4 separate regions of the Homo sapiens genome follow, and regions 1, 3 and 4 are each reported to be linked to region 2. Evidence: microRNA targets listed by miRTarBase, many of them from high-throughput screens and not tested one by one. Region 2 holds a microRNA gene; each other region holds the end of a gene's coding sequence.
The links. The annotated mature microRNA hsa-miR-4296 reads AUGUGGGCUCAGGCUCA and lies in region 2 at 2,906-2,922, opposite strand. An mRNA with a match to its seed (bases 2 to 7 or 8) in the 3' UTR can be bound and repressed. Matches are read on the target gene's strand: a 7mer-m8 pairs with bases 2 to 8, a 7mer-A1 pairs with bases 2 to 7 and ends in A, and an 8mer does both.

Region 1: the mRNA of RAB5C is a reported target of hsa-miR-4296. Seed matches in the 3' UTR shown: 8mer at 3,642-3,649.
Region 3: miRTarBase lists SIAH2 as a target of hsa-miR-4296. Seed matches in the 3' UTR shown: 7mer-A1 at 1,314-1,320.
Region 4: miRTarBase lists ZNF581 as a target of hsa-miR-4296. The part of its 3' UTR that is shown has no 7-base or 8-base seed match.

What each region holds. Positions count from the first base shown.
Region 1 is chr17:42,121,541-42,126,122 of GRCh38, forward strand. RAB5C (RAB5C, member RAS oncogene family) reads right to left here. Exons shown (of 6, transcript NM_004583.4): 6 at 3,439-4,358. The coding sequence ends at 4,243. HSPB9 (heat shock protein family B (small) member 9) reads left to right here and starts at 1,264. Exons shown (of 1, transcript NM_033194.3): 1 at 1,264-1,812. The coding sequence starts at 1,311. The coding sequence ends at 1,790. RefSeq lists an enhancer at 1,579-2,116.
Region 2 is chr10:125,029,939-125,034,620 of GRCh38, forward strand. MIR4296 (microRNA 4296) reads right to left here and starts at 2,932; the gene lies at 2,845-2,932. The region is part of intron 3 of CTBP2 (C-terminal binding protein 2); the gene reads right to left.
Region 3 is chr3:150,738,672-150,743,353 of GRCh38, reverse strand. It overlaps SIAH2 (siah E3 ubiquitin protein ligase 2), which reads left to right. Exons shown (of 2, transcript NM_005067.7): 2 at 656-2,229. The coding sequence ends at 1,213. It overlaps LOC101928105 (a long non-coding RNA gene), which reads left to right and starts at 4,369. Exons shown (of 3, transcript NR_121657.1): 1 at 4,369-4,503. RefSeq lists a silencer at 2,408-2,487.
Region 4 is chr19:55,644,140-55,648,821 of GRCh38, reverse strand. It overlaps ZNF581 (zinc finger protein 581), which reads right to left. Exons shown (of 2, transcript NM_016535.4): 2 at 3,199-4,269. The coding sequence starts at 4,250. The coding sequence ends at 3,657. CCDC106 (coiled-coil domain containing 106) reads right to left here and starts at 610. Exons shown (of 5, transcript NM_001370470.1): 1 at 1-610. RefSeq lists silencers at 255-384, 415-534, 3,771-3,880 and enhancers at 3,481-3,530, 3,541-3,590, 3,274-4,239.

The DNA.
Region 1 (4,582 bases), not on the chromosome of region 2:
TAATGGAGTCCGGGAGAGTCACGATGGCTGTCCTCTTGGGGACAAGGAGTCTTGGGGAGAATCGTGGGGTCTGCCTCTTTCACGCGCCTGTCTCCCACTTAACCCCCTCCCCCAACTCCCGCACAGGCCCTGCCCCACGCGGCTCCGGACACGGAATTGCAGCTGCGGTAGAGATGAGATGTAGCAACAGTTCTGCAGTAGTGTGGTGGTGACTTGGGTGTGTTCTCCTCCTGACATTCACCTGCACCTTTTTCTGCGCTTTTCAGTATGTATGTATTTAATAGTATCACTCAACAAAAAGGAGTTTATCAGGCCGGGTGGCTGGCTCACGCGGGAGGAGAGCTTGAGCCCTGCAGGAGTTCGAGACCAGGCTGGGCAACATTGGGAGACCCCCCCCACCAATCTCTACAAAAAAATAAAAAATAAAGTTTATAGGCTGGGCGAGGTGGCTCACGCCTGTAATCTCAGCACTTTGGGAGGCCGAGATGGGAGGATCGCTTGAGCCCAGGAGTTCGAGATTAACCTGGGCAACATAATGATACCCTGTCTCTTAAAAAAAAAAAATTATCAAATAACAGCACCAGAGGCATAGCTGTGGTTATGATGGTCACCAAGAAGGCTACTGACGTGGAGGGTGAGGCGGAGGAGGGCTAGGTCTTTCTCTGTGCACTGGGAGCCACTCTCCTGAAGCCCCAACTGCGTCTTCATCTTTGTGGCCCCAGAGCCCAGACCACAGCCTGCAGCACAGGACGCCCCGGGAAGAATTAATGCAGCCGGAGAGACCAGTCCACCTCCTCGTGTCGCGTGTCCGCGTGGGGTTGTGGGTGGTCAGGGAGAGGTAGGGTGGATGACCCAGGAAGGCCGCCCTCCCCTGGCTCTGTCTAGGAACAATCCTTGCCCCAGGCCTGGTCCTTAGAAGGCAAGACAGCCCCCTTCCAGCTGGGGGATCAATCTGCTGTTGGCTGCGCCAGGGTGCGGCTCCCTCGGGTCTGGCCTGGTCGTGGATCCAGTTCCTTCACAGCTGCGGCCTCCCCGGGTCCATTAACGAAGGTGGGGAAGGGCGGAGAAAGGGTCGGAGTCTGGGAGGAGAGCAGCTGCGGGCGCGCCAGGGCGCTGACAGTCTGGCTCTTGGAGGTAAGATGGGCGTGGCTGATCCCGAACTCCGCCTGCGTTTGCAGAAGCGAAGGGAACCGAGCGAGCGGAGCTGAGCTCGGGTAGGCCGCGCGAGGTCCCTCCTCTCCGGGCGTCCGTGCGCCTAGCTCTGCGCTGGGAGCCTCGCGCCCTTTGACAGCAGTTAGTTGCTGACTCGGATGCAGAGAGTCGGTAACACCTTCTCCAACGAGAGCCGGGTGGCATCCCGGTGTCCCAGCGTGGGCCTTGCTGAACGGAACCGGGTGGCCACAATGCCGGTGCGGCTGCTCAGGGACAGTCCAGCGGCTCAGGAGGACAATGACCATGCCAGAGACGGTTTCCAAATGAAGCTGGATGCCCACGGCTTCGCCCCGGAGGAACTGGTGGTGCAGGTGGATGGCCAATGGCTGATGGTGACCGGACAGCAGCAACTGGACGTCAGGGACCCGGAAAGGGTCAGTTACCGCATGTCACAGAAGGTGCACCGGAAAATGCTCCCGTCCAACCTGAGTCCTACCGCCATGACCTGCTGCCTGACCCCCTCCGGGCAGCTGTGGGTCAGAGGCCAGTGTGTGGCGCTGGCCCTCCCTGAAGCCCAAACAGGACCGTCCCCGAGACTCGGGAGCCTCGGCTCTAAGGCTTCCAACCTGACCCGGTAAACAAACGACGCGATGTGCAGCAGCCTTGGTGTCCGTTGTCTTTTCTGGGGATGGAAGTCAGAGGTAGAGGGACTGGAGGCACAGGAGGCAGGAAAGGCACCCTCAAGGTGGTGGTCCACCAAGAATCAGGCCTCTGCGGGCAGATCACTTGAGGCCAGGAGTTCGAGACCAGCCTGGCCAACATGGTGAAACCCCATCTCTACTAAAAACACAAAAATTAGGCGTGGTGGTGTGTGCTTGTAATCCCAGCTGCTCGGGAGGCTGAGCAAGAGAATCGTTTGAACCTGGGAGGTGGAGGGAGGTTGCAGTGAGCCAAGATCCTGCCACTGCACTCCAGCCTGGGCCACAGAGTGAGACTCTGTCTCAAAAAAAAAAAAAAAAAAAAAAAAAAAAAATGCTGGGCGCGGTGGCTCACGCCTGTAATCCCAGCACTTTGGGAGGCCGAGGCGGGCGAATCACAAGGTCAGGAGATCGAGACCATCCTGGCTAACACGGTAAAACCCCGTCTCTACTAAAAATACAAAAAAATTAGCCGGGCGTGGTGGTGGGCGCCCGTAGTCCCAGCTACTCGGGAGGCTGAGGCAGGAGAATGGCGTGAACCCGGGAGGCAGAGCTTGCAGTGAGCCGAGATCGTGCCACTGCACTCCAGCCTGGGCAATAGAGTGAGACTCCGTTTCAAAAAAAAAAAAAAAAAAAAAAAAAAAAAGCCGACTGTGGTAGCTCACGCCTGTAATCCCAGCACTTTGGGAGGCTGAGGCGGGTGGATCACTTGAGGCCAGGAGTTTGAGACAAGCCTGGCCAACATGGTGAAACCCTGTCTCTACTAAAAATACAAAAATTAGCAGGGCGTGGTGGCGGGTGCCCGTAATTCCAGCTACTTGGGAGGCTAAGGCAGAAGAATCGCTTGAACCCAGGAGGTGGAGGCTGCAGTGAGTTGAGATAGCACCACTGCACTCCAGCCTGGGTAACAGAGACTCCGTCTCAAAAAAAGAAAAAAAAAAAAAAAGGGAATCAGGCCTCTGTGGCCCTGGGAGAAATTGGAGGAGAGTGTGGCCCTAGCTGAGCAGCAGCTCCAACAGGTAGCAGCAGAGAGCTGAGTGCCCAGACCTGATTCCAGAACCAGTAGAGAGCTGGACTGGGGCAACTTGGATGTGGTGTGGGGGGGTGACGTGGACAGAGGTGGTGAGGAAAGCCAGTGGCTACAGTCTTGGCCTTAAGACCAGTCCAGCGTTCCAGGGGCTGTTGGGATTCCTTCCTCTTCAGGAAGAGAGAGGATCCAGACCCTCTCACTGGTAAAGACCAACCAAAAAAAACCCAAAGAGGTTGTTTCTGGTGTTTCAGAGACTAATGATCATCAAATACACACTGCATGTCACCCCAGTATGATCTGGTAGGTGGGGGAGGGGAAGGGAGGTGGAGAAGTGAACACGGGCCCTGAAACTTCAAACTTGGTCAGCCCAGGTCAGCTACCTCATCGGAGCTGCTAACAGTAAGAGCCTCTTTCTCTTGGTTACCATGACCACCAGCATCCCCTCACATTAGAGGGGAAGATTTTGTTTAACAAGATTCAGTGGTTCATTTTAAATCAACTTCAACTACAGAGGGCACTGTCTGATAAACTGCCAGAGAAAGACAAGGAAGACAATTGTGAGGTCGATCGATCGGCTGACTATATTGACAAGATACTGATTGGTTACATGTTGAAGAAAACATACAATACAAAATACAGAAAAAGTTGGTTCCGTCCCCTCCCACTCCCCCCCTTACCCACCCACCCCCAAATACTCATCATCATGATTTGGTCAGAACAGGGCTCAGAGCCAGAGGTTGGGGTGACCGAGGGTGGAGGGGTTGTGGGCAATGGGTTCGTGGCTGTCACAATAATGCTGTGATAATGCTGTGGTTTCCCAGCAGGGAGGTGGGAGCGGGGAGGGGGCTGCAGCCTGATGAGAGCCAGCTGAAGGAAGAGCTGCCTCTCCCTTCCTAAGCCCCTTCCCAAGGTCTGCCCCACCGCCCAAACCAAAGACCACTCCGAACAAAGTGAGGATGTGGATGCTCTTGCTGGGTCCGCTGTTCCGCAGGAGGGAAAGAAAGGGTAGCTGCACTGACCCCACTGTCCCCATATACAAGGGTTGGGGGGCAAGAGCATGTGGCTACTCCCAGCAAGGGAAAATGGGAGAGCAGTAGAAAGGGGAGGAAGTGGGAAGAGCAGAAGATCATATATATTAAAAAAGTGACTTAAGACTTAAAATTGAATTAGTATTTGTACAGAAAGGTGCAGGTGGAATGACTCACTCCGGCCTATGATCAAAATTATATGGAGAAATCATGGTGGACCCCTCCCCCTGCCCCCCCAGTGGTGGCCCGAGTCGTTAAGTGCGATTGGTTAGAGTGGATTCCAGTCGGGTCATTCAGGCGGAGGAGGCGGGGGCAGCGGGCAGGCAAGGGGGGCTCAGTTGCTGCAGCACTGGCTCCGGCTGGCTGGGTTGTTCTCCTGGAGGTCCACACCTCGGTTTCGGCCTGGAGCACCAGTTGCATTCTGGGGCTCGTTCTTGGGAAGCTTCTTAGCTGTTTGGGAGGGGGAAAAGTGCATTTGTTGGGGGTACCCCAATAACTCTCCCAGTTCCACTGGAGCAGATTCTGGCCTTTATACCCAATCAGTGGTAACTCACATATTGAGGGCTTCTGTGTGTCAGGTGCATTCTGATTGTTTTCAGGAAACTGCGGCAAAGTAAGGTTAAATAACTTGCCCAAGACTACAGAGCTAATGAGTGGTAGAGCCAGGATCTGCA
Region 2 (4,682 bases):
CGCTTTGGGGCAGCATCAGCCTCCCATTGAACCAGGAGGCCCAGCTTCCATTTCTATCAACTTTCAACCTGTTCTGCTTGGAAACCACCCAAACTCGCACAGCCTTGGCTCTGAGATTTGACAAATATTATGACAGATGTTTTCCTGCGCTAGGTAAAAACACCTGTAACTGGACTCACTTTTCCAAACACTCTGGTTACACAAACACCACACACACACACACACACACACCACACTCCAGTCTTTTAGAAAGGACTGCTTTTCTTAAAAATTCTCATGTTGACTAAAAGTGAGATGGGACCCATTAGAGTAATACATCTCACGGGCTTAATTTTTTAATTCTGCCAAAACCCTCACTATAGAAATTATGTCAAGTAAAAATAAGATGATTGTGTAACATAGCTGTGTCGGGGAGAGAGGCGATGTCCACCCAAAGCCAATTCTGAAGTCCCTGTGCGACACAAGGTGTCAATTAACAACAGAGACCTACAGAGATCCAGACAATTCCAGAGATGGATCCAGACAGTTCCAGAAGAGCTGGGAAGAGAGGCCAGGATGGGGATGATCAGTGGGTACCCTCCGACGGAGCAGTCTTTGGACAAACTGCCAACAAGCATTTCATGTTCCCATTGGAATAATCATGCAGGAAACTGCTTGAAATGAGAGAGAAAACATGACTCTGGGGTCTAATTCTCACTTTTATAGAAAAAGAAGAACAGGTGGGATCAGTGAGTCTGAAGGTTGCAGTAACATGAGGGCCATTTGGCTCAATGGTGTGTCCCTCTTAACTGTGTTGTCACCCGCCCACTTGGTGGGCTGCCAGGTTTGTCTCAAGGCCTTCTCAGGGAATAGCTCATTCTCAGGAGGCAACTTAAGTTCCCAACTGAAGGAACTTAAGGAACAGCTTCCCCAGGGGGGTCCTGCACCTGCCTGGGCTTCCATTCCCTGATCCTGCCTCCACCAACACAAAGGGCCAGGGCAGCTCTGAAGGTGATAGCGGAAATAACATCTCAGGAGGCTCTTCAGCGCCTGCTGCATCCCAGGACGGAGCCACCACAGTGCCCTCTACGTCTCCCACAGCGAGCGCTTCCCTAGGGAGGCTGCAGAAGTTAGCGGGTAACACGGTTTTCTGGCAGACACAGGGCAGAAAAATCGGCCTATGGCATACCCATTTCCTGCTTTTAAATGTGGACAGCCTGTGCTGGATTTTTGTCTGCTTCTGTCAAGTTAAGTGTTGTGGAATTTGTGCCATTAAAAAAGTTTTCTTGGGCCGGGTGCCGTGGCTCATGCCTGTAATCCCAGCACTTTGGGAGACTGAGTGGGGCGGATCACCTGATGTCAGGAGATGGAGACCATCCTGGCCAACATGGCGAAACCCTGTCTCTACTAAAAATACAAAAATTAGCCGGGCGTGGTGGCGGGTGCCTGTAATCCCAGCTACTCGGGAGGCTGAGGCAGGAGAATGGCGTGAACCCGGGAGGTGCAGGTTGCAGTGAGCCGAGACAGAACCATTGCATTCCAGCCTGGGCAACAGAGCAAGACTCCATTTCAAAAAAAAAAAAAAAAAAAAAAAAAGTCTTTCCTCTCATCAACCCCCTACCCCCTGCCCCCGAACGTCCTCAACCCAAAGTAGCCAAGTTGGCTAATCTAACGCAAAGGGTGGGAGGCCACACCAAATGCACTGGTTACATAGCAAACACAAAGTCTGGCTGGGTTTTAAAGCAGCCTTCGTCTAAATCACGCAAGCACACAGCAACAATTAGCAAAACTGCCCAGACATCGTTTCAGGTATCAAAGGGGCTGAGTGCACCGTGCACCCTTGCTTGCACACTGAGTGCTCTCACCAATTTCTGGGCCTGGAGCGCGGAGGCTTGGGCACCCACGCAACGCGCCAAAGGAAGTCAGGAGAGTGACGTCGAGTGTCTGAACCAACCCAGCCTTTTTCAGATTAGCTGCATCCTAAGAAGCCCCAGTCCTCATGTCTCTCAGTATTTAGCCATGGTAAGTGAAAACAAAGGCCTGCACATTGCTTCTGACTCAATTTCTTAACTATATTGTAAAGCTTCCTGGGAACTGCATTATGAAAATTAGACCACTCATTATGGGGTTTCAAAAGAAAAAAAAAAACAAGCCCATTCTCTTGCACTGCCCATTTTGAAAGTGTTGGTGGAGCCAAAGTGTGCAACGGGACCCCAGCTGGGATGCAGGACAGGCCTCACCTTGGACCATGTCAGGATTCCCATTTCTAGCAATGGAACACACTCAACCTCAAGAGGCTGTGCTCAGCTCTGGACAGCACCCGGCACAAGACGCTCCGCACAGTAGGTGCTCAATGAACACCACCCCTTCTGCTCTTTAGCAGCTTTTCCTGCAGATTCCCAAAGTCTCCACCTCACCTCCATGGTGACCCGCCCCATCACACTCCACTGTTTGAGGTCTCCTCGGCTGTCCTGCGATCAGAAGGTCCCAGGATGCCGTCCTTCCTCTGGTTTTGTGAGCAATGCTCCTAATCAGGGCTGGCTCAGCGAGCCCTCCCCCATGAACCTTTCTCAGTCCAATTCTGTCACTTTGTCCTTAGTCCAAAAAACCTGCCACTCCTCAAGATGAGAAAGGCACCCCAAAAATAGTCCAGGGCATGCATGTGCCTGTAGAGACAGGCCAAGGCATGGCCGCTTAGCCCCTGACCTGCGGAGCGGAGCGCACCCCTCCCTCCACAGCACGTGCTCCCTCCATTCATCACGTGCTTTTCATTTTGTTTGACACCCGGGCTGTAAATCAAACTGTCGACTATGACTCAATGGTGATGGACGGCTGGCCTCAAGGGAGTGTACGGTGTGATGGGGAAAAACGACAGAGACATGGACACAGTCCCCAGAAGCCCCTCCCCACAACCACTTCAGCCCTCTGAGCCTGAGCCCACATCAAAGCCCAAACAGCCCCATTTGCAAGCCTGGGCATGGTAGGCACTAAGCTAGGCAAAGCACCCACCGCCCAAATACAAATGGCTGCCTGACAGAGACCTGCTCCACCTGAGCCTGCACACGGACAGTTTCAGCACACGGGCCTTGATGGGACGGTCAGCCTTTCTTAGGATACGAAAGAACTGACTCTCAGCCTCACTCCCAAGTCTCGGATAAATCTGCGTCACCCATCCCAGGTTGCAAATGGGAAGGGAGGAACCCTCCTGGCACAGACATCTCTTCAACCGGAACACGGAAAACAAAACCCTCAGGTGATGAGAAACAGGCTGGAGGGACAGGGAGTGTGGGATCCCACTGTGCCCCAGCGCTGGACACCCAGAATGCTCTCCCCTCTCGGCATCTTCACAGCCCAGCTGGGGTGCTCAGCCAGGCTCCTGCTGGATGTGGAAGGGCTGAGAAAGGCACGTGAGGTCACTCTGTAGATGGAGATGAGACAGAGACAGAGGAACGCCCTCGAGCGCGCACGCCAAGGTGCCTGAGCTTTAGTAGCAAGCGAGCCAAGTGGTAGAAACCAATCAGAGAGGAGTCTCATTTCACAGCTTTAACACTGTACGTTCTGGAAAAGGAGAGAGGGCAAGAAGCCGGCAGCAAAATGTATCTTGGGGTTCTGGTTCACAGTCACCCCAAATACCTGTCAATTAGGTTGAGCTGTGTGAAGCGCGCAGAAGGTTCTCCGCATTCGTGCGGGCTGCTGTCTGCTGCTGTCTGGCTACCCTGGGGCCTCCTCCAAACACGGAGACTACGGATGCACTGTTCCCCCCGCGGCACTCCTTCCCCCTGCCCACCCCAAGCACTGCTCCCCTCAAGGCACTGACTTGGCCTGAAACTAGAGATGCTCTTTTCCCAAAGGTGCCGGGACCAAGAGGACAGGCACTGAGAGTAAAGCCCTGGGCAGCTGGGCCCAGGGGCTCCGGGCCACACTGTGGGAGGTTTCAACTCAATCATCGATGGAGACAGGGCACCACCAACCAGGCGGTGGGAAACAGCGCGATTCACTGTGGTAGGGGCAGGAGCTGAAAACCGCAGCTGCAGAACCAAACTAGAAGACGGTGATGAACCCCCAAACCCCAGCCACAGACTCCAGTTGCACTACACATCCCTGGCCCCCCAAATAAAAGCAAAGTGGCCTTAACATGTTGCTATTAGAAAAAAGTGGTGAGTATGAAGACATCCGCCCATCACCAAACTGACCGGTGCAAAGAGACGCTTATGTTTGTGCTTGAGAAATGAGTAACAACAGAGAAATAAAACACCGAACCTGATTCACAGCTGCAGAACGGGAGGGCAGTCTATGAACCCCATCCCCAGAGTCGGTGGAGGAACAGGTGGGGTGAGGGGTTCCCTGGGGAGGGGTCCCCCACTCTGAGTTTCTCTTAAAGCCGGGGACAGATAAGGCAAAACATGAAACTTTACCCCTTGCAAAGAACCGCACTTTTGTCTGTGAAGCTTTGCCTTGGCTGTTTCCTGAACCTTTACCTTTGCATAAGATTGTTTGGGTATGTTCATTTGTGCTTTGGGGTTTTAAGGCATGTCTAGTTGACTATTGTATATTTACATAGCTAATGTAATTACAGCTAATCACATAATTGCTGGAAATGTGCATAATTGCCTGATCCCAACATATAATTATAATGTATAGCAACATTATGAATCCCATTTTTAAAATCCACATTTTGGGGCTATTTAAAGTTATTTATTAGA
Region 3 (4,682 bases), not on the chromosome of region 2:
GGGCAAAGCCCCCCAGAGGGAAGGTCAAAAGGATGCAGTGGGGTAATATTTCTAGCTGTATGAAGGGGTCTCCAGGCCTCCGCTGCCCTAGCCTGGTGATGCCAGCAGCAAAGAGCAAGGAACCAAAGGGCAGCCTTCCCCACGGCCTGCCTGCCAGTCACCAGTTTGAGCCAGAAAGCAGTGGAGGGGGACGACAGAATTATACTGTTGTTAATATTGTCTATATGTGAAAACTAATCTTGGGATAATATAATATTCCTTGCCCAACCCCATCCCCACCACCCAAGCAATTGAATTCTTTAAAAAACAGCTTCACAGAAAATATGGGGAAGACCAGCTTTTATAGGGCTTGCTCAACAATTTTGAGATGTGCACAGTAAGAGAACTTTAGTTCTGATCCCTTTGACAGCGGAACAGGGGGCATGGAAAACAGCGTATTTCTGGTTCAGGAAATACCCTTCATTTTATGCATGACAGCATTGATGATGAATAGAGACGGAGACTTTTAGTCTTGAATATTTCACTTGCTTTGAGCAAAAGTAGTTAAGAACACAGTTTAAGCCCAGGAAAATGGAGTAGTTAAGTACTCATAGAGGGTTGAAGCAATAGAAGTTTTGAGAAGGCCCAATGGCTCAATGCATTTCTTTCTTTGCAGTATGCCACCACGGGCTGTTCCCTGACCCTGCACCATACGGAGAAACCAGAACATGAAGACATATGTGAATACCGTCCCTACTCCTGCCCATGTCCTGGTGCTTCCTGCAAGTGGCAGGGGTCCCTGGAAGCTGTGATGTCCCATCTCATGCACGCCCACAAGAGCATTACCACCCTTCAGGGAGAAGACATCGTCTTTCTAGCTACAGACATTAACTTGCCAGGGGCTGTCGACTGGGTGATGATGCAGTCATGTTTTGGCCATCACTTCATGCTGGTGCTGGAGAAACAAGAGAAGTACGAAGGCCACCAGCAGTTTTTTGCCATCGTCCTGCTCATTGGCACCCGCAAGCAAGCCGAGAACTTTGCCTACAGACTGGAGTTGAATGGGAACCGGCGGAGATTGACCTGGGAGGCCACGCCCCGTTCGATTCATGACGGTGTGGCTGCGGCCATCATGAACAGCGACTGCCTTGTTTTCGACACAGCCATAGCACATCTTTTTGCAGATAATGGGAACCTTGGAATCAATGTTACTATTTCTACATGTTGTCCATGATGTGACTTTCGTAAACCTTCAAAATTATTTGGGCATAGTGCTCTATGTTTAATAAAGGTTTTTATAGATGTTTTATTCCATATGTCTTCACAAGTCAGGACCCACAATTACCCGTGTTTTGTTTGAACAGCAGTGTCCCATCTGGCTTCGACCCAACAAAGTTCATTAACCTGGGATGAATGGGGTTGGCCTGTTGGTGATTTGGATGCTGTTCTGTGATCTAAAACAACTCTTATTGAATTGTATTTACTCCCTAAACAACACTTGACAGGCTGTTGCACAGGGCTTCTATAGATCAGTGTGTTAGGAATGGGAGGCCCCTTCCTGCCTGCCTTCCCATATTGGTCCCTTGACATTGACAAAAGCACAGTGACTGTCAGCAGATTCCTTTACTTTTGTTTGTGGGAGGTAGGAATTGTTTTAATGCATTTTAAACAGTGTTTCTGAAATTGGATGGCTGGCTAATAGACACTGAATCACCCGGAGTGCTTATCTTAAAATTGCAGATTTAGGGAGCCTGCCAATTTAACAGTCTCATCAGGTGATTCTTTTCAACAGTAATGTTTGAGAATTACTGGGTTAAATTGTGGGAAAGGGTCCAGATTTTAAAGGTGCTTTAAGGTTGCCCTCTGCCGATACTGTTTGTCTTTCTACTGTTTCATCCCCTAACTTCCCCCAACCCTCAAATTAAAACTAGAACTATAGATCCACATGAACGCACGCCTGAGATTTGGCCACTCACCTATGTTTTGGGTGGATTGCCTAGGAAAGCAAGTCATATGGCCATTGATAGTTCTCATGTAATTAGTTTTGCTCACCACTAGTACAGATGACCCGTTTACACGTGGCTTCCCTCGGAAGCCCTCCTCAACAGTAGCTGGTGTGAAAGACTAAATCAGTAGAGTTGGAAAAGCTTTATAACCGGTGTGTCATATGCTTGCTATTTAAAGCTGTGTGTTGGTTTTGTTTTTCTGCCACATTCACTAGTTTTTTAATAAATATTTTCCAAAAATGGATATTGTGCTTCATTTCCCTAATTGAGTAATGGGTATTTATTGAGCATCTACTGTGTGCAAGTGCAATGAACCTTCGTCACTACATCTGGGGTTGGAACTTTCACTGTTTGTTTCCACTGTGGAAACAGTCATTGGGCCAAGGTCATGGCACGGGTCCATGACAGCACTGGGGTCCGGGCTCATGTGTCTGAACCACTGACTGTCAGTGCTGCAGGTCTCCTCCCAGGGCTGTCGTTTCTATCTGACAGTGCCAGTACCTGTGCAATAAGAGGATTGCTCCAGCTTTACAGAGTCAGAAGGAAGACGCTTGGCCACTGCTGACATCCAGAGTGCTGGCGTTGATCCAAGCTGACCCACTCCCTCAGTCCCAACCCTAAACTCTCAAAAGAATTTAGAGGATTAGGGCCAAATGCTCAGCAAGGATTGAAGGCTGCTTACCTCAGTGTCCCAATTTCTTTCTTTTTTTTTTTTTTTTTTTTTGAGACAGAGGCTGGAGTGCAATGGCACTCACTGCAATCTCTGCCTCTAGGTTCAAACAATTCTCCTGCCTCAGCCTCCCAAGTAAGTGGGACTAGAGGCCTATGCCACCACACCCAGCTAATCTTTGTATTTTTAGTAGAGATGAGGCCAGACTGGTCTCGAACTCCTGACCTCAAGTGATCCACTTGCCTCGGCCTCCCAAAGTGCTGGGATTAAGGCATGAGCCACCACACCCAGCCCTCAGTGTCCCAATTTCATTAGCATACTACCAAATGGAGGTGATGGCTTTGGAGTTGATTTTGTTTTTTAAGTGAGATACAGCGTTGAGTTTTTAGCCAGCACAGGGCTCTGACATTTAAAGAATTGCTAAAGTAACCTCTTCTGTAAAAGTGAAAAACGGTGCCCTACACAAAAGTAGGGGTTTACAACATCTGTGGTGAATGAATAAAAACCACAACTCTTATCACTAAGAAAGTCACATTTCAAGTCCATATACAGAGGAACCTATGAAGGTGAAACTAGGATCCAGGAGCAGATGAACTCTGACCCTCAGGACCAGAGCCAGTCCAGATATGGCCTCCAGGGCCCTCACGGCACCCATGCAAGGTGCAGTGTGCATACACTAGCCAAGCTTGGCAGCATCACTTCATGTCCACGGCTTACCCTCTTACTACGTGTGGTAGAGGAATCAGGACTGATTGGTTAACAGTGCATAAAACGCAAACCTATAAACAAAAGACATAAAGAAGGAGAAAGTGGACACAAGTTATTCCAAAAGCACAAAAAGAGTTTTAGCCCAAAAAGGTAAAGTGATGGGCCAGCAGCCACACAGTGCATTACTGGCAGCACTGGTTCTATAATTCAGGCTTCTTGATTCCCCATTCAAACTTGCTCCTAGAACTTAACAAATGAAAAAGTTGTAAGCAACGCAACTCTGAACTTTTATTTTCCAGAGTTACGTAGTTCCCTTTCATCTCTGTCACTGGAAATCTGTAAACTTAACCTTTACTCTTGACTTTCTTGAAACTGTGCATTTTCTACCAGAAAATAAAAATCCCCAGGTTATTCCGTTTTAACAGGAAGTGAAAACAGCAGAAAAAGATTATGTAAATTAAAATGCCTTTTTATGCAGTTCCAATTGCAAATGCAATTTAAAACATGATGAGTATATTCCTTGACTTGTTGCTTTTAAAAAAAGTGAGAAAAAAAAAGAAAAGTAATGATAGGCATTTGTCAAAACTCATCACGTGGTCCACTTAAGTACCATATTTTAAAAAATAAAATAAGAATATTTTATCTTTCCTGTCCTAGTTCAATATTCTAATTTGGTAATCTGGCGATTAAACGATGGTAGATTAAGCCTGTGTCTTATGACGCATGAGTCATTCTAAAGAAAAAAGGGTTCTCAAAATACCTTGGGAGAAAATGTTAACAGTCATTAATTCTGGGTGCCTAGAACCTGGGTATATGGTATATTATTAATTGCATTGTTCTACGTTTTTAATTTTTTTCAAAAAACCAACCAACCTTGAGATTAGGGGTTCCCAGCGTTCTTGTAAGGAGGAACTGGTCTTGGTTTCCCTGAATCCAGAAGACTTAAAGGATTGAGACAGTGGAGTTCTTAGAGGGAACTGTCCAGGGGATTATGGGAAATACTTCGGAGAAGAGGCACCGAAGCATCAACTATCTTGGAACTCTGCCAACTAGAACCTCGGCCTCAACTGACACATCCAAACTAATGGCTGAGTGTCTTTTTTAGCAGCATCAAGCAACTCCTTTACAATACCACCCAAAGTAATTTTCCTGAAGAAATTCTCCTTGTATCTAACTTCATTCAGGTTCTTGGGGCTTGCCAAATAGCCAGCAATGTGACCTTAACTTGGTCAGTTGACATCTCTGGTCTTAAGTTTCCTAATCTGCAACATTTGAAGGTTTATTTTCTAAACGTTTTTACTTTAGTACTAATTTCTGTG
Region 4 (4,682 bases), not on the chromosome of region 2:
AGTCAGGGGCAGGGGGCCCAGCCGCCTAGGTCCTGGGGGAGAAGTGAGCTGGGGACGTGGGCTCCTGGGTATCGAAGGAAAAGGAAGCTGAAGCCCTAAATTGCTGGGTGCCCCAAGGGGTCGCCTGACCAGGGACACCTAGCCTGAAGGGGAAGGACCCTCTCTCATCGCGGGCCACTGCCAGGCCTAAGGAAGAGGCAGGTGCAGGGGGAAACTGCCCCAACTTCCCAGGGTAGGAGGAGGTCCAGCCCGTGCGCGCTGCCTCCTCTACCTTCGGGGCCCCCACACCCCTCCCCCGCACTCGCGTGGGCGGGCGGACCGTCCCCCGGTGGTGGGGGCTGGGCGCGTGCGCAGTACGGGGAAAGGTCACGCGTGGGGGTGCGCCCCCCCCGCCCCCGCCCTTTGTCCCGCGGGTGGGAGGGGGAGCGGTCGTGGAACGATTCCAGCGGGAACATGCACTAGGGCGGGGGTGCAAACGCGGCCACCATCCCCCGCCCGCGGGTGCCCGGGGTCCGAGGGGCCGAGGCCCCCCGCGCTCACCCACCCGCTCGCGGAATCCGGCTCGGGGACCGACGGCGGCGGCGCCCATGCCCGGCGCCGGGGAGCGTCTGCAAAGTGTCACGGGGAGCCGAGGGAAGCGCCCACCCACCCGCGAACAGGCGGGGCGGCAGGGGAGCGTGTCGTGGAACTGAGCGACGGAACGGGCAGGGACGCGGGGACTCGCCCAGTCGGGCCAGGCTAGCGCCCCTCGTTGAAGAGTCCCCGGGTCCAGGTGAGGCCCGCCGTTTGCGGCAGAAGCAGAGGGTCTGCACTTGCGCGATAGCCCCTTACAGCACTCCCCCGCCCTCCCCGAAGCTCAGGCAGGGAACATCACGAAATTCCCATCCTGGAGAGCTGGCGAGTCTCCGGGGGTCCCCGGATTGGGTGGCGGTGTGCCCAATGGGCCCAGAAGGCAGGAGAGTGTTTGAGACACCGAGAAAGTTGGAGCGAAAGGAGAATCTACTTTTAACGCTCTCTCAGGAACTAGCCAGCGCGGACCCCTCAGAGCTCCCCTACCTCCTACAGCCAGACCCCAAGGTTCTCAGGGATGTGGGGGCCAAAATCGGGGGAGTTACCCCTCTCCCGGAAAATGAGGGCCAGGAACACGCCACCCCCATCCCCATGTTGGTAATTAAGAGCTGGCTTTGGAGCAAAGCTAGATTCCAGTCCTGACTGTTCCTGCTCCTCCCCAGCCTGTTAACTCACCTGCAAAATGGGGAAATTACAAGCCCTTCTAAATTTATTGTGAGGATGCAGTGATGCGACACACAGAAGCTCAGCCCAGCACCTGGCCATCGTCAGGGCTGAAGAGAGGAGCGCTGCTGGTATTATTTGAGGTCAGATGGTGGGGTATGATGGCAGCCTCTGGGAGGCTCTTTCCCACTCTGGGGAGTATGAACGGAAGATTTGTTCTTCCTCCCAAAAAAACAGGTCGGAAGAGCAAATGAGGCCTAGCACAGTGCCTGGCACAAAATAGGCAAGAAAAATGAATGAATAAGCAGATGTTTATTAAGCTTCAGGCTCAGCTCCACCTGCCTCTCCTGTTCACCAGAAGCATCCAAGCTCTGGACTGTGGCCAGCCCTTATAAGAGCAAGGTCTTAACCCGATGGAGGGAGAATCTAAATGTCTGCACCGCCTGCAAAGCTGTGACCATGATCCTCCCCTCCCCACTTTACAGATTAACTGCAGCCTGGTCCAAAAATTCCAGGGGGAGCCATCTGCCCTAGATTGGTCTTTTCCAAACTACAGGTTCATGGGTGGAGAATTCAATAGAATAGGATGAAATCAGCAGTTTAAAAAAATATTTAGCCGGGCGTGGTGGTGCACACCTGTAATCCCAGCTACTCAGGAGGCTGAGGCAGGAGAATCGCTTAAACCGGGGAGGTGGAGGTTGCAGTGAGCCGAGATCGCACCACGCTCCAGCCTGGGCGACACAGCGAGACTCCGTCTCAAATAGTAATAATAATAGTTGATGGAAAAAAAAATGCACAAACTAAAGCTAACTATGGTAAAGAAATTTTTGTGGGCCGGGCGCAGTGGCTCACGCCTGTAATCCCAACACTTTGGGAGGCAGAGGGGGGCGGATCACGAGGTCAGGAGATCGAGACCATCCTGGCTAACACAGTGAAACCCTGTCTCTACTAAAAATACAAAAAATTAGACAGGCATGGTGGCGGGCGCCTGTAGTCCCACCTACTCAGGAGGCTGAGGCAGGAGAATGGCATGAACTCGGGAGGCGGAGCTTGCAGTGAGCCGAGATTGCGCCACTGCACTCCAGCCTGGGCGACAGAGCAAGACTCCGTCTCAAAAGAAAAAAAAAAAAAAAACTTTTGTTTCGAGGCCTAGTGCCCTGAGGGAGGCCGAGGTGTGTGGATCACCTCAGGTCAGGAGTTCGAGACCAGCCTGACAAACACGGTGAAACCCATCTCTACTAAAGGTACAAAATTAGCTGGGCATGGTGGCACACGCTTGTAACCCCAACTACTTGGGAGGCTGAAGCAGGAGAATCGCTTGAACCCAGGAGGTGAAGGTTGCAGTGAGCTGAGATCACGCCATTACACTCCAGCCTGGGTGACAAGAGCGAAACTCCGTCTAAAAAAAAAGAGGCCAGGCGCTGTGGCTCACACCTGGAATCCCAGCACTTTGGGAGGCCGAGGCAGGTGAATCACCTGAGGTTGGGAGTTCAAGAACAGCCTGACCAACATGGAGAAACCCCGTCTCTACTAAAAATACAAAATTAGCTGGGCATGGTGGCACACGCTTGTAATCCCAGCTACTAGGGAGGCTGAGGCAGGAGAATCGCTTGAACCCAGGAGGCATTGCGGTGATCCGAGATTGTGCCATTGGACTCCAGCCTGGGCAAAAAGAGTGAAACTCCGTCTCAAAAAAAAAAAAAGGAAACTTGGTTCACGTGTATTTTGCTTATCTGTATACTCTATTGCCATATAAAATGTGTTTGTAACAGGAGATTGTGGTTTTAAAATTGTTTCAGTTAAAAACATTCTTCCCAGATGACCCAGGTCTTCAGGAGCTGAGGAGGGGATAACCCCAAGGCAGGCCAACCTTCCCATTCCCCAGCCAGGCAAGCTGAGGTCTCCCTGCTAGACGGCCACCAAAGAGGGTCTGAGATGCTGTCTCTAAAAACAAACCTCGAGTGCTCAGAGTGGGAAACGTGTTTATTGTTTGATCAGTCTCAGGCCTGGTTGGGGGGTGGAAGGCAGGACTGGGGTCCCTTCCCCAACAACAGCGCAGAAGCCCCAGGAAGATGGCGCAGATTCCTGACGACCCACAGCCACCTTTTATGAGGCCAGAGACTTTACACACCACACTCCCCACCTCCATCCAGTCAAGGCTCTGCCATGGAACAGCTGATATCTTTAGGCTAGAGGACTCCATTCTGTGTAGGGGCTCATTCCCATCTCAGCTCCAGAACACGGAGGACCTGAAGATTACTCACGGATTCCTCCTTCAGGCAGGGCTCTGCCTTTGAGATGCGGCTGCTCTGTGTCTGTGTCCAGGGCCCTGAACACCAGCCTCAGGCTCTCACCAGGTGTCTGGACAGGAGTCCAGGCTCCCTGCAAAGTCCTGTGGTACCTGGGGCACCCGGCAGCCCGGCTCATGGATGCTTCCACCGCGTGTGTTTCTGCAGTGTGTTCTGCTCCATAAAGCGGCGAGGGCAGTGTGGACACTGAAACGGGCGTTCCCCAGAGTGCACCCGGCTGTGCTGGGCCAGCTCACCCGCATCCCGGAAGCGGCGAGGGCAGAGCGGGCAGCCGTGGGGCCGCCCACCACCCGCCAGGTGAATGGAATGGTGCCGTGCCAAGTGGCTGGCGCGCTTGAATGCCTTCCCACAGATGTCACACTCGAAGGGCTTTACCTCCGAGTGGGTGATGCTGTGTCGCTGAAGGTAGGACATGTACTCGAAGACCCTTGAGCACACGGGGCAGCTGTAGCACTTTTTCTGGCCTGGAGCCCCACTGGCCCCTGGCTCCCTCTGTGACTCCTCGTCCACCAGCACTGTGTAGGGGACACCCTGAGTGTCAATAAGCAGGTAGTGGTTGGGCCTTGGAGGAGATGAAGCCTGGGGAGATCCGATGGAGGAGGAAGGTCCAGGTTCTGGGGAGCGGCAAGTCCGACGGGGAGGGCCCTCCATGGTCTCAACGGAGGAAAATGCCAGAGGCTGAGGGCAGGGGGATGGCAGCACCAGCATCCGGAGGGCTGGCTGAGGCCTGGTGGATGGGAGATGGGATAAGAAGGTTATATAGAAGAGGGCAGCTCAGCACCACAGGCTCCATCCTTTTCCCTCCCTATACCCGGCCCAGGACCTCTGCATCCTGCTGCCCCTCAGTCCCTCTTTTCCAGTCCCGCTCACAGCTGGAGTCTGTGGCCCCCTAAAAGGTCCCCAGGGTCTTCCTCCTTGGAAAACCTCTCCTAGCCTCGGTGCTCCACCATACACTGTACTCACAGGATCTCTTGACCTCCTCTGCACAACCTGGACCTCGCTCTAACCTTCCTCTTTGTGCCCTCCCAGGTCACTGGGTGCCCCACCCCGCAGGCCTCCAGGCCTCTCCCTCCCCTCCTTCTAGCCCTTTCCAGGGTCTGCGTGTTGGCCTATGCTACATACTCAAGCCTTTCCTGACCC